Regions from separate parts of the Homo sapiens genome. Here all the other regions are reported to be linked to region 3. Evidence: microRNA targets listed by miRTarBase, many of them from high-throughput screens and not tested one by one. Region 3 holds a microRNA gene; each other region holds the end of a gene's coding sequence.
What was found. Region 3 holds the annotated microRNA hsa-miR-4776-3p (CUUGCCAUCCUGGUCCACUGCAU, at 2,117-2,139, opposite strand). A microRNA usually pairs through its seed, bases 2 to 8, with sites in the 3' UTR of a target mRNA and lowers its output. Matches are read on the target gene's strand: a 7mer-m8 pairs with bases 2 to 8, a 7mer-A1 pairs with bases 2 to 7 and ends in A, and an 8mer does both.

Region 1: the mRNA of SPRY4 is a reported target of hsa-miR-4776-3p. Seed matches in the 3' UTR shown: 7mer-A1 at 2,673-2,679 and 7mer-A1 at 2,956-2,962.
Region 2: miRTarBase lists TMEM233 as a target of hsa-miR-4776-3p. Seed matches in the 3' UTR shown: 7mer-A1 at 373-379 and 7mer-A1 at 1,631-1,637.
Region 4: the mRNA of RFX1 is a reported target of hsa-miR-4776-3p. Seed matches in the 3' UTR shown: 7mer-m8 at 1,217-1,223.

What each region holds. Positions count from the first base shown.
Region 1 is chr5:142,310,640-142,314,564 of GRCh38, reverse strand. SPRY4 (sprouty RTK signaling antagonist 4) reads left to right here. Exons shown (of 2, transcript NM_001127496.3): 2 at 1-3,925. The coding sequence ends at 356. Among named protein-coding and RNA genes, the nearest start is that of SPRY4-IT1, 5.7 kb to the left of the region's middle. RefSeq lists an enhancer at 3,146-3,647.
Region 2 is chr12:119,640,470-119,643,469 of GRCh38, forward strand. It overlaps TMEM233 (transmembrane protein 233), which reads left to right. Exons shown (of 3, transcript NM_001136534.3): 3 at 230-2,606. The coding sequence ends at 236. The region is part of intron 1 of PRKAB1-AS1 (PRKAB1, TMEM233 and CCDC60 antisense RNA 1); the gene reads right to left. Among named protein-coding and RNA genes, the nearest start is that of PRKAB1-AS1, 26 kb to the right of the region's middle.
Region 3 is chr2:212,924,433-212,928,448 of GRCh38, reverse strand. It overlaps MIR4776-1 (microRNA 4776-1), which reads right to left and starts at 2,192; the gene lies at 2,113-2,192. MIR4776-2 (microRNA 4776-2) reads left to right here and starts at 2,113; the gene lies at 2,113-2,192.
Region 4 is chr19:13,959,980-13,962,979 of GRCh38, reverse strand. RFX1 (regulatory factor X1) reads left to right here. Exons shown (of 21, transcript NM_002918.5): 21 at 116-1,450. The coding sequence ends at 285. It overlaps DCAF15 (DDB1 and CUL4 associated factor 15), which reads right to left. Exons shown (of 13, transcript NM_138353.4): 10 at 2,911-2,996; 11 at 2,589-2,693; 12 at 2,400-2,515; 13 at 1,531-2,040. The coding sequence ends at 1,985. Among named protein-coding and RNA genes, the nearest start is that of DCAF15, 9.0 kb to the right of the region's middle. RefSeq lists an enhancer at 2,816-3,000.

The sequences.
Region 1 (3,925 bases), not on the chromosome of region 3:
GCAACCAGGAGTGCCTGTGCTCAGCCCAGACTCTGGTCAACTATGGCACGTGCATGTGTTTGGTGCAGGGCATCTTCTACCACTGCACGAATGAGGACGATGAGGGCTCCTGCGCTGACCACCCCTGCTCCTGCTCCCGCTCCAACTGCTGCGCCCGCTGGTCCTTCATGGGTGCTCTCTCCGTGGTGCTGCCCTGCCTGCTCTGCTACCTGCCTGCCACCGGCTGCGTGAAGCTGGCCCAGCGTGGCTACGACCGTCTGCGCCGCCCTGGTTGCCGCTGCAAGCACACGAACAGCGTCATCTGCAAAGCAGCCAGCGGGGATGCCAAGACCAGCAGGCCCGACAAGCCTTTCTGACAGTTTGTGTCGAAGCCCCAGTGCTCTGCCTGGAAACCTGGTTCTCTTCTGACATCTAAGAAGACTGCAGCAAGGTCAGAGGTTTTAGCCTCCTGAGGCTGACCTTGCTAGTCTGCCCACTCCCTACCCCCAGCTTCGGAAAATACAGAGACCACCACCACGTACCCTGTATTCCCCAAGGTGATGAAGAAGCACTTTGGGGCTTTTTTTCAGGGTCCTGAAACTTTGTGTCAAACAGACAATGCAGGGGCAGGGTGTGGTTTGGGGGGAAATTTTTCTTTTTCAGAAGACAGAACACAGATGTGGACACATATCCGGAAACTGCAGCTGCTTGAATGCCTTCCCAGCCCCTCCTTCTCCCTCCCTCCCTCCGCCCCCCCCCCCTTCCTCTTTTCCATTGTCTTTGGCTCTCACAGGAGCTAGCTGCCTGGGAGGAATTGTTAACTGAGTACCAGGGTACCTTTAAAGAAGACCCTTGGAGTCTTCTATACCTTCTTCTCCTTCCCCATCTCACTCCACCCCACTTTGTCCCTGATGTCTTGGGGAAGGTGTAGAACACCCTAGCAGTTCCTATTGTATATACTTGGGAGCCACTGAGAACAGAGGACGGCCAGTGAGTCCAAGCCTCGTTCCTCCTTCTGCCTCCCCGGAGCCACAGGATGGATTTAGGAGCCACTGCTCAGTGCACTTCTCCCTTCCAACTGCATCAACTAACTCTCGGGGGTGTTCTGCTCACCACACCGTCCTTCGGTTCTTACTGAGTCACAGACTCGCCTGCCCACTACGTGTCCTGGGTTCTCTCTACTCAGATCCCTTCCAGAAACTTTATATGGGTAGAGGAAGCCAGGGCGGCAAATGCGAGACCAAATATCATTTTGCCAATGAGTCTGAGGCTGTGGTCTCTGGATCCAGTCATTATGTTTTTATAGAATAATTAAACCGGATGCTAACGGTGTTTTAAAAAATAATAATAAAACAACTTGTTTCCTTTTGGCCACCCCCAGGAAGGGCTGATTTCAAAATCTGGGGGCGAGCAACCTCAAGGAACACAATTTCCCTCCCTATCAACAAGAGGATTTTAACAGCAAAGAAGAGAGGCAGCACCTCCCATTGGCAGAATGACCGCTGAGCCAGGCTGGGTTTGGGTTTCTTCTCTTCTGATTCTGCTGCTCACTGTCATAGCCTTTTGTGTATAGTGATGTGTCTGTATCTTTAATGTAAATAGAGAGATGATGAAAAAAGAGTCTATTTTAGTGTTAGGAAGCCCCAGCAGGGGAGTCGGAAGAGCTTGGAAGAGCTGGGGAGAGGGTAGGGGAAAGGTTTTTCCAGGGGCCACTGGGTTTGAGCCCTGCTTCTGTGCACAGCCACACCACCCTCTCCCGACAGCCCTCAAAGACGTAGCAACTCTTTCTCTCAAGGTGCTAAAGGACTCAGAAGGTGCAGCACGTCCAGTGGGTAGGTACTTGTTGCATGCAAAAGCTGTAGTGTATCTGGTCCTTCCTCCCCAGCTTTTGTGTGGGGTTCTTGCTTTGTGTGGTATTTTGTTTTCCCCTCTAATGAGAGGGCATGGCCTGAGTCAGAAGAGCTACCCCAGGTGAAACTGGAAGTGCATGAGGCAGAGCGTCCGTAGCATTTCCAGTTTGTTCTGTATAGGAACAGAGGTGCCTCCGGGAAGGAGGCAGCGAGGTAGGTAGCTATGATAGGCACCTAATGCTTCTCAAGGACTTATTTTTTCCTTCTTGAAGACTAGTAGTAACATCTTATGATTTAGAGTAAGTTGATTGTAACCATAGGTATTTATTGATTGGAGGAAGGGAGGGTCATATTATTTTCGGCTTTATTTATGTAACATTTGCTAGCTTGTAAAAGGCGAATGTGAAATATTGCATCTGCATTTTCCAAGGCTGATTCGTGTAGCTACCCTTGCCACAGTTGTGACGGATGTATGGATGTTCTTGAACATTTCAGAAGGAGTGGTAGAAAAAAACACACATTCAGCCAACCACTTATATGAATTGAATGTATCAGAAGTGTACTGAAGGGACTGGAGATGGTTTTCCTCAGATGAGGGGGCCCCAAAATTGATAGTGCACATCTGCACGCTTTCTGCGAGGCCTCAGAACTTCCCAGGGCCCCTCCCTCAAATTGTCTCCATGGGAAACTTGACCCAGTGGCAAGTTGCACTTTGGTGATCTTGGTGGTCTACACACCCGTTCTGTGGAGAGTCGATTTACATAAGCTGTGTATACACACACACACACACACACACACACCCCTACCCCACACTGACTGTCTACCGACAAAGACCCTATTTCCTGGCAAACGGCCTCCTGAACCCTGACTTTTTGTGTACATACTTGTAAACACGGATTTTTCTGGGTTTTGGTTTGCTTTTTCCTTTTTTCCCCCTGCCCCTGTTCTAGCTTGTTCTTCTTGGTTTGCTTTCAACCTGCTTGATGGATGTCTGCAGAGTGCTCTCTAAGAGTCCACCTCAGTGCCTCGTGTGCTCAGTGGTCATGGGAAAGGAGCGAAGGAACCATCCTTGGTTCTCCCAGCTTGGTTGTGTAGCAATCCCTCAGCATTGTTTTTCTCAGCTTCTTGGCAAAAATTAAAACAACAACAACAACAACAACAACAACAACAAACAGAAGGATAAACTGGCTTGCCTGTGGACCCTCCCCGGCTCTGGGGCCAGTCGAGAGCCACTGAGGGACCCAGCACTCAGAGACACAACACACATGTGTAGCTGCTTCTGGCTGAGTGTGTTTCCTGTCACCAATGGCCTGTTTGGCTGGACGATGCCTCGGCTTGACCTTTTTTGAAAAGTGCTGGTTAGTTCCCGCCCCTGGTAAACCTGGGGTAGGTGGGGGTTCTGTCTTAACTCGAGGGGCACCTGGGATCCAGGACGCTTCTAGGGGGCTCTGGCTGCCCGTGTTAATGAAGGACAGCGCTTCCGCGAGCACCCTGGGAACTGGGTCTTGGGTAGCAAAGCCCTCCCAGAGAAAAGATTGGGCACAACTAAGGCTTTCCTGAGCAGGAAGGGGGTGAAGACCAATCCCTTCCTTTGGTCCTTTGGTACGCACCCCCTCAGAGCTGAGATGGAAGACATGGCTAGTTCTTTTCAGCCTTGTGGAGCCTGTCAGTCGCCATCATACCTCGAGTGAGGCCCAGCTAGATAATGACTTGTCCAAGATGGCACACGTGGAAAGTTGATCTGCACCAGAACCCGGATGACTGTCACCTTGAAGCATCCTGTTCTCCTTCTGTGCTGTCCCAGGAAGTGTCTGGCGGGCGTGGGCAGCACAGCTCTACACTGTACGATTCACTAGGGCATCCTGCGAGCCTCACTAGCCTTCTGGTTCATGCCTTTGACAAGCATTTTTGTGCCCCCTCTGCTTACTGTGACAGTCGATGATGAATCTTGCGTTGCCATTTTCTGCTGTGGGTAACTGCGTGCAGTGTCTTGCCTTGCTTTCTCTTCTTACTGTCCCACAGCTTGGTTTCATGTTACAAACAGAAAAGCTCGAGGCTCCCACCCCGCCACATCCCAACTTCATTTCCCCCTCACT
Region 2 (3,000 bases), not on the chromosome of region 3:
TTTTTTTGCACGTACCACATGTAAGATAAAATAAGTTTTACAAATAGAATATGTTTCTCAAAAGGAAGCCCCTGCTTAGAGTCAAAAGTGTGCACGCAGGCTGGTACATTTCAACATGTGTTTAACCAGAGTCATCATCATCAAATAAGGAAGGCATCGAGCTGGGAAAGCCAACCACAGAAGCTCAGCCCACGGTCTTTCTCTCTCTCTCTCTGTCTGTACCACACAGTGCCTGAGGAACCAGCGGTCAGTGGGCTGTGAGCGTGGAGGATGGACCTCATCCACACACACCCCAAAGGAGTTTCTAAGGAATGGATCCTTGACTTCAGACTGTGAGATCTTTTCCTCCAGGACTCTCCAGAGGCAGGTCCCTGGCAAATGAACAAGAAAAAAAAAAAAAAAAAGTCCAAAATTTAGGCAATCCAAGCTGCACAGCCGGATCAGCCAAAGTCATTGATTTGTAAAAATGAAAAGAAAACAGAAAAAAGAAAAATGAAGTCTCACTGTCTCAGTTTAGCGAATCCCGTTGTGTCCACTCCTGTCCTCCAGAGGCGAGCCTCAGGAAATCACATAACTTTTCACTGAGGGGATCCAGGGGGTCTCCATATAGGGGGAGATGGAGGTTTCTAGGAAGAGCAGCAGGTGCTGGTATTTACAATGTTGAGCACAAACATTTGCAGCATGTTTAAAATTGTCTAGTAGAGTTCAAGTTGTGGATTTGCTTTTCCTTTTATTCTTATAACCTTCAGTAACTCCTCCTCTGGGAGTCAGCACTCCCATGCCCAGAGTTCACCCATCTGGTCATCAAACACTCAAAGAAGGGGCTTTTCTGGCCTTTTGTCTTGATGCTTATATTTCCAAATAGGCCCCCTCCCTTGCTTGCATCCACGTTGGTCAACTTGACCAAAACCTCACTCTTCACTCAAACAGGCTCTGAGAATGGACTTAGTGGCCAATTCTAGGTACATGAGCACTTCCTGTATCCCAGTTTTGGGAATAAACTGGCTGTATTTATAGAATGTGCTTTTTTTTTTTCAATTTCTCACTCTCTCTCCTATCTCTAGCAAGTCTCAGGCAAGATCTTTGATTTTCCTGGATGCCACCTGGAAATGCCACCCATTGTGTTTCTTTTCTGTCAAATGTAAACCCTTTAGATGTGAATGTACTGGTTTAATGATGCCATTATTCTGCCTGCCAGAACGCAGTAACCCAGTGTCTCACAGAGCACAAGGGGTGTGCCACTGGTGGTACACAAGATAATTTTTAAGTAGTTTCTAGGAACAACATTAAGTAATACCAAATCACAAAGAATGTTTCCCCTTTTCTATTCTTTTTTCATCCTGATTACAGCAAGGAAAAAGTCTCTGTTTAGTGCTAGCAGGTCCTTTACACCTTTCAGACACTATGGCTCTTTTCCCTTTTTAGCAAAGAAAGAGCAGGCCTCAGAGTCTTCTGTCTAGATAGAATTTAATGATATTGTTTTGTGTCATGGTATTTATTTTATTTATTACCTTCCATTTACAGCTTCCCACAGTGGGGGATGTGACATATTGTTTCTGTTCAAATAAATTAAGAAAAACAAGAGAACTCAAGAAAATATCAAGTAATTAACACACCAGATAAGTATATGTGGCAAAAGTCACTTCAAAGAATTAATGTCAGAAAGATGGTGATAATGAAGCAAAAGAAAGGCAGATTATGCTGGCCGGGCGTGGTGGCTCACGCCTGTAATCCCAGCAATTTGAGAGGCTGAGATCACTTAAGGTCAGGAGTTTGAGACCAGCCTGACCAACATGGTGAAACTCCATCTCTACTAAAAATACAAAAATTAGCCAGGCGTGGTGGTGCATGCCTGTAATCCCAGCTAATAGAGAGGCTGAGGCAGGAGAATCACTTGAATCCAGAAGGCGGAGGTTGCCGTGAGCTGAGACTGTGCCACTACACTCCAGCCCGGGGTGACAGAGCAAGACTCCATCTCAAAAAAAAAAGAAAAGAAAACGAAAGAAAAAGAAAAAAGAAAGGCAGATTATTCTAATTGAATGAATAAGAGGCTGAGAGTCAATACCTAGTTCCAACGCCCTTTTGTTTTTGCAGGGTTTTTATTGGCCACTAACTAGCTATGCAAGCTGATTTTAGGCAAGTTTCATAGCCTCTCTGTGCCTAAAATTCCTTCACCTGCAAAATGGGGATAAGAATGCCTGCCTACTTACCTCACAGTGCTGTTATGAGAATTAATTGTTGTAATAGTTGTGACTAACCATTGGCGGGGAGAATTCTAAGTACTATACCAATACAAATTTCAGCATTTTTTCATATACTGAACCCTAGCAAAAAAAAAAAAAATTCTGATGAACATCAGATTCAACCTGTCATTTTACCCGGATGTTGTGATGAGCCAGCACTTGTCCCAGGAGGACGTTGAATCAGGGACACGAAATCTCAGCACACAGAGATTCTAGCATCATTCCAATAGATTGGACCCTGATTTCTGTTTCTGACATCCTGTTTTTTGTTTGTGCGTGTTTGGGTCCCTGGTCTTTTACCCAAATCAAATGAAAAGTGTTGCTCAGAGGCAGAATAAAAATGGTTTTAAGTAAGCCTGTGTACCACAGTGTGTGAATTGTGTTTTCTTGGGGTTCCCCACCTTCCAGAGATTTCCGTAACCAAAATAAGCTCATCTAGTCCAGCATCAGTCCCCAGGGAAGAGCCCAGAGAGGCCAGAGGTGGCGCTAGAGAGGCATCACTCTGAACTAATTTATGGCCAGAAATGTCCCTCTATGAGGCACTGAAAATGTTGGTCCTATTAAAGTAAAAAAATAAAATAAGAAAAATCTTGTCATTAAATGTGCTCCTTGGGGTCAAGAGGGCCACTGATTTTTGTTGGGCGTCCCCCAGGTCCTAAGCTCTAAGAAGGACAAAATGGTTTTTGTTGGGATGATGGGCTTGTCCAGAGCTTCCTCCAAAGCTAAGACTGCCCCTGCTCCACTCGCAAAAGCACAG
Region 3 (4,016 bases):
TTACCTGGACAAAGTAATAACAGGAGAGATGGCCTCTCAAAGAATACTTTGAAAAATAATAAATTCTAGAGAATTGTATATTCTTAGCATATGATACATCTCATATAAAAGAAAACACTGAGATATTCCTATGGACCTTTTTTCTATTAATACATTATTTGAACTATGTCTTTTTATAGTATTTATTTCCTTAAGATCTTAGACATAAACCTAAGTTTGCAGGGAAATACTCATGTCTGAAAGGAGATGTTCTTAAATTGACATTTTACATATATCAGTTGTCACAACTTAAGATCCCACCTTTACTCAATAGTGCTTAAGGGGTCATGGAGGAAGATTTGATTGATTGTTTTTTATGTATACAAGGGGCAGGCCGGGTGCAGTGGCTCACGCCTGTAATCCTAGCACTTTGAGAGGCTGAAGCAGGTGGATTGCCTGAGCTCAGGAGTTCAAGACCAGCCTGGGCAGCATGGTGAAACCCCATTTCTACTTAGATACAAAAAAAACCAGCCAGGCATGATGGCTCCCGCCTGTAGTCCTAGTCCAGCTACTCGAGAGGCTGAGGCAGGAGAATTGTTTAAACTGGGAGGCAGAGGTTGTAGTGAGCCGAGATCGTACCACTGCACTTCAGCCTGGATGACAGAGTGAGTCTCTGTCTCCAAAAAAAGACAGAGTGAGACTCTGTCTCCAAAAAATGAAAGTATACAAAGGACAGTTGTTTTACCCAGAAAGGAAGAAATAAGAAAGTCAATTATTAGAAATTTGTTTAACTGGCATGTGTTGAGTTCCTATACCTTATTAGATACATTTGAACATTCTTTCATTAAGTTCTTAAAAAATATGAATTAGGTATTATTTTCATCTCCCATCTTACAGATAAGGAAACTAAGATTTAGAGAGTATAGGTCACTTGCCCAAGGTCACGGACTACTGGGAAGCAGGGACATGAATTGAATCAAACTCTTTTCAAATCTAAATTCAGTGCACTTAATTTCTGTGTCATGCCATCACACTTTCTCTCCATGAAAGCTAATTTCTCTTTTAACATTAGGTTTTATAGGTAGTTCTACTAATTATGTTTGTGAAGTTTTGTTTTCTTTTCCCTTCACAAGGGCTGGACACAGATCAGCATTCTCATGTTATGAATGATTTAGCTTCGGATTACTCTTCTGCAAATGGAGGGAGGAGGCAAACCTCAAATTAAAGGCAGGGTTGGAATATAAAAGTCTCAGCTCCTCAAGAGTCCAGAAAAACCTCCTCCCAAGAGTGCTGTGGCCTCTTGGCGCCTCTCCAGGCCCAGCCTGCCTGCAGGACTTGCTTGCTCCATCTTGCCGGTTCTCAACGGAGAACTCTTTGTTTTGGACCCTGTTCTTGTATTCTGCTCAGTGGACTTGAAAATTGGAAGTTTCCTTGCTTCCTGGTCCTTCCTGTGCCTGGGAAACAGACTTGGAATTCTTCTTTTCTTCTCTTCATTCAGCAAAAAGACAACCCCACCAGTTACCATTCCTTGTATTAGTTCTTGGAACCCAGCCTGGGCCAACAGTTAGGCCCCCTGAGAAAAGAAGCCTAACTTCATTTGCCTAGTCCTTCCCTCAATAGATTAAGAAATGAAGAGAAAAAAACCTTCTTAACATATACTACATAATACTAATATTTACTTTAAAAAAAAAATAAAGGCTTAACCCCTGCATTTTCATCACTTGAGAAAATTGATATAAGCTAATATTTTCAATAATTTAAAGAAAATAAACCATTTCTTTCCTGCTCCCCTCCCCTTCTGAATATTCGGCATAAATAGTTGCTTGGGTAGAATAAATTCTCACTATTCATTGGTTTGAATGCTTGTGTATATCCCAAGGGTATACACAATGACCTCTACACACATGACCTCTGTTTTACATAGTCAACTTTTATTTTGCTGAGGCAGAAATAATGCATGCAGCAAAGACTGCCAGCTGTTTACCAAAATCCCTTCTCCTCTTCTTCCTGAGCACACAGCTAGACTATACTTCCCAGTCTCCATTGCAATTCTGTGTGGCCACATACTAGAGCTCTTGCACTGCTGTGTTTTTGCATCCCCTTCTACCTTCTGGCTTCCTGAGATGGAGCAGACTATATGCAGTGGACCAGGATGGCAAGGGCTCTACTGTCCTTTCAGGAGAGCCCTTGCCATCCTGGTCCACTGCATATAGCCGAGCTCCCACTGACCTGGAACCCTCATCCTGGACTGTTGTCCAAAAGAGAGATAGATGTGTTTTTCCCTCAAACATGAGAAGCTGAATTTGGCGGTCTATTTGTTACGATATCATAGCCTGTCCTAACTGAAACAGGGCACATGTAGTATGTAGCACAAGTTTCTTAGCTAGTGAGAGTGCTTAGCAGAAGCTCAGTGCCTGCCCTTCACCAAGATTTGAGGTTTCCTACTCATGGAGTGTCATCAGTAACTCTTGCCAAGTGATAAATCTTTTGAATATTGGTGGAATATGATAACACAAAGTAAACTAACCCCTAAATGTTGGTAGCAAAAGTAAAATACAATTGAGTGTGTCTTAGAGGGCAAAGGTTCTTGGCTAAAAGGTGGTTGTTTTCTAGAGTTTAACAATAAAATACCAAACTCATATTAGAAATAGGAATAATTTTACCATATGCTCCACATATAGAAAGAATAAAAAACTCAATTCTGGAACTGTTTCACCAAATGCTTCAACCAGAATTTTAAAAATAAATATATAAATAACTATGGTCCTGAATTTATAATATTAATGATATGTAGGAATAATTTACATTTTTTGATTTAACTCACAACATTTCAGGTAGAAAATTATATGGTATATATATGGAAATTTAATGATTTACACACACCCACACTTACATATATACCGACATACAAAGTTATCACCTTATGATATATTCCTTCTAAATATTATTTGTTTGATCCAAACTCTAGGATGAATTTACCTTCTTAATTCTCTAAAACTATGATATTAGACCACATATTTTTGCATCTTAAATTGTAAAATTTCAGAACATAGAGAAAAGAAGAAAAGAGATATAAATGATATTTATTCAAGACTATTGAACTCATGTGGAAAAATAGTCCCCCGAGGACGTCAGGTCCTAATCCTTAGAATCTGTAAATACTACCTGATACAGAAAAAAGGTTTCTGTCTGTAGGAACCTAAGAAAAGACATTTTTAAATTAAAAACAATTAAAACATTAAAAATTTAAGGTCTTTATAGGTATGATTAAGTTAAGGATATTGTGATGAAGAGGTTATCACAGCTTATTAGAATGGGCCCTAGATGCAGTCACGTATATCCTTATGAGAGAGAGGCAGAGGGAGAGCTGACAACGAGGAGAAGGCAATGTGATCAGGGAGGCAGATGGGAGTGATGCAGCCACAAGCCAAGAAGTGCTGGCAGTCCCATGAGCAGGAAGAGGAAAGGCCAGATTCTCTCTTAGAGTTCCCAGAGGGAGCATGGCCTGGCTAACTCCTGGATGTAGGCCTAGTGAAACTGATTTTGGAGTTTTGTCCCCTAGAACTGTGAGAGGATAAGTTTATGTGGTTTTAAGCCATTGAGTTTGTGGTGATTTGTTATAGCAGCCACAGGAAACTAATCCAATTCCATTTTCTAACAGCTGAGTTCAACTTTGCTAAGTTTATATCTGTGATATTTTATCCTAAGTCTTTGGGGACCTAAGTTTGTTTTCCTTTTCCTTGGCCTGGAAAAGACAAATGTCCCACCCATTGTATTACATGTTGTTGAATGTCTTTAGTGAGCTCAAGAGAGGGAACATCTCTCTTCTCCAGCTGAGTCTGAGTCATTGAAAAACAGAGTAAGATAGATAGAGAGGAAATTATCAATTTTATCATTGTTAAAGTTGATTTTGGAGGATCGCCTTACTATCACTGAATCTCAGATTTAGAGAGACTTACCTACCTTATTTCCAACATTAGACAATGTACTCTAAAATGTAGGGTCTGAAATAGCAGAGCAGAAAGTATGCTTTCTCT
Region 4 (3,000 bases), not on the chromosome of region 3:
TTCCCACCCAGGGCGCGGGTCCCGGGGGTGGCGGACAACGGAGGGGCTCGGGAGGAGGAGGAGCCCGGGGGCGTTGCCACCCCGCCCCGAGCCGGACTTGGTCCCTGTGTTCCAGACGAGGAGGAAGAAGAGGAGGAGGAGAGCGAGGACGAGCTGCCGCAGGACATCTCACTGGCGGCTGGCGGCGAGTCACCCGCGCTGGGCCCGGAGACCCTGGAGCCGCCGGCCAAGCTGGCGCGGACTGACGCGCGCGGCCTCTTCGTGCAGGCGCTGCCCTCCAGCTAAGCCCTTGGCCTCCCCGCCCCACCCGCCCCCGCCACCCCTCCACGCCAGGGTCCCTCAAAGCTTCTGTGGCTTCGTGGTCACTGCTCCAGCCTCAGCCAGGGCAGGGAGGGGGACTCCGAGACAGGGAAGACCGGGGCCCTCCTCCCTTATGGGGCCGGCACAATCAGTGGGCTGGGCGGAGCCGCAGCTGCAAACTCTGACACAAAAGACGTGCCTTAAGGAACCCGCCGCGTGCCCAGGTGCCCCGCGGGGCATCCAGCTCGGCCCCTTGGCCGCCCCCCTCCCAGGCCCCAGCGTCTTCTCCCCAGCCCCGTCCTCCCACCACCCCAGGGGGCAGGCAGGCAGGCCCCCTCCCGTGCGAAACTGTTAACTTATTCAGCTCGCTGGCTTTGCACAGCCTGTCCTGGGCCCAGCCCTGAGCCCCGGGCCGGCGCAGGTGGGCGTCACCTGGGGACTCCCCACTGTCAGCAGCAGCCCCGGGACACCCTACCCCCAGCAACCCCACTGCTTCCCCTTCTTGGTATTAAGTGCAATTAAAGCCGTGGGTGTCGCATCTTCTCCAGCGCTGGGCCCTCCCTTGCCCCCAAGCTCAAGAAGGGGGCACTGCCCGGCCCGGCTGTGAGGAGGGCGGCAGGGGGCACGGCCTCCAGCTTCCAAAGAGCAGCGAGCCGCGGAGCCGGGGAGTGCCCACAGACCCCAGCCCCCGCGCCCCCGCCCTCCGCCGCTGGTTTGTAATGGAACCTTTTCTGTGCCCCTATCTTCCCGGAGACCACGCTTCTCCTCCGTGCCGTGCGACCCCCACCCCATGACTATTGTGCGATTCGTGAGCGCCGCCCGAGCGGAGTTGGTAACTTGTTGGGTTTTTTTCCAACCATCATGGCCTTATCTGTTCCAGTTTTCTCAGTGTTTTCAGCCTGTGAGATAGATGTTTATGGCAAGAAAAAGGAAAAAAAAATGGAAATCTGACCTATTGTATAAAAATCACTATTTTGTGTGCTCCGCGTGCTATAGCTTTTGGGGCGGCCCTGCCCAGTCCCCGTGCCCACGGGGCTCCCTCTCCCGGTGGTGAAAGTGTCCACACGTGTGGTAGTCTAGTGTGCCGAGCTGTTTTCTACCTTTTTGTAGTCTTTCTTAAAACAATAAATTCCGCTGTGATATTTGCCTACTGCTGACTCGCCGGGCCTTGGTGGGGGCCTTGGGGCGGGGGCTCCAGCTGGGCCCCAAGCTGCAGTGACAGGACCTCAATGAGGTTCAGAAATTAAAACATTTATTACATGAAGAAGAACGGAATGGGGATGGCCAGGTTGCCGGCCTGGGTGGGGAGGCTGGGGGCGGGCAGGGCAGGGGGAATGGGGTCCATTCGACCTCCCCGAGGGCAACGTCCACAGCTGTAGCCGAGAAAAGGGCAAATGCACGAGGGGCCAGGCCCATGCCCAGCTCGGGGTGAAGGCGGGGCACTCAGGCTGGTGGGGCAGGGGGCGCCCTCTCTCTGCCCCTTCCCAACTTAAATAGGCATAAATAAAAAGCGTCCAGACCCTCAGGCCAACAGAGGCTGCCCTGCCCAGCCCCGTTCCGCAGGCTAACACTAGTGCCGGTCATCAGTCGGTGGGCCAGCCGGCCAGGAAGAGGCCACCCCAGGAAGGGGGCCGGTCCCAGGCCACGGAGGTAGTTGGAGTCAGTGTCCGGGGCGGCCTGGCCCTCACAGCACGATCCACGTATATCGCTCGCTGTCCGCCAGAACCTTCAGGGAGCACCCTACAGGGACAGGTGGAGACAAAGCATAGAGCCCCTGCCTGCCTGGCCCTGCGGCCACACCCTCCACCTGACTTGCTTCTGGCCCAGAAGGTTCCAGAAGGCAGGGACCCTGCTGAGTTGCCCTCCACCTCTAGCCTGCAGCTACCCAATAAATGTAGCGTGAATGAGTGACCAGCCAGGCCATGACTGGTGGGAGGCTCCCAGGCCCCACACTTTCAGGGCTGCTGAGCTGGGCCTGGCCTGGGCTGCCCTCTCCTCACCAGCCTTCCCACCCATTTCATCAGCGCTCAGGAATCAGCTCCTGGGTGAGGACAAGTGTTCCTGGTGACCCTGACCATCACGGGGTCACCGAGCCCCACCTTTGTGCAGCGCCTCATTGGTCATCCTGTTGACGTAGCGGCCGCTGCTCTCCGGCACCAGCCACTTCATGACCATGTCCACGCAGCTCTTGCGGTAGGAGCTCCAGACACTGCCGCTGCGGGGCCAGGGGGTGAGTGGCTCTCGTCGCCTTGGCCGCGCCCTGACCCTGCCCCCCAGCCCTGCCTCACCTGGTCTGCCCTTTGACCTCAGTCAGGTCGCCTACACTGACTGTCTCGAAGATCCCTGTGTTGAGGTCCCATGCCACCTTGAGGCTGGTGTGATAGGTCTTTGGTCTACAGTGGAGAGGGACATAGGACAAACGCTGGGACAGCCGGGCTCCTGAACCAGGCCCCAGGCTACCCTGAGGGCCTTTTGTCTTTGGAACAGCTATGGAGGGGCCCAGCCAGGTTGTGGCACAGGGAGAGCCTTCTCACGTCCCCACACCCCCACCGTGAAGTGTCTGCCAGTGGCCCCCCTAGTGGACAGAGAGGGCAGGATCCCCGCGCTCACCGGAGCTGGCCCTCCTCAGTGGGGGACGGGAAGGCCAGGAGCAGCAGGCCAATGTTGATGAGGACCTGGTTGGTTTCTGGGCAGACCTGG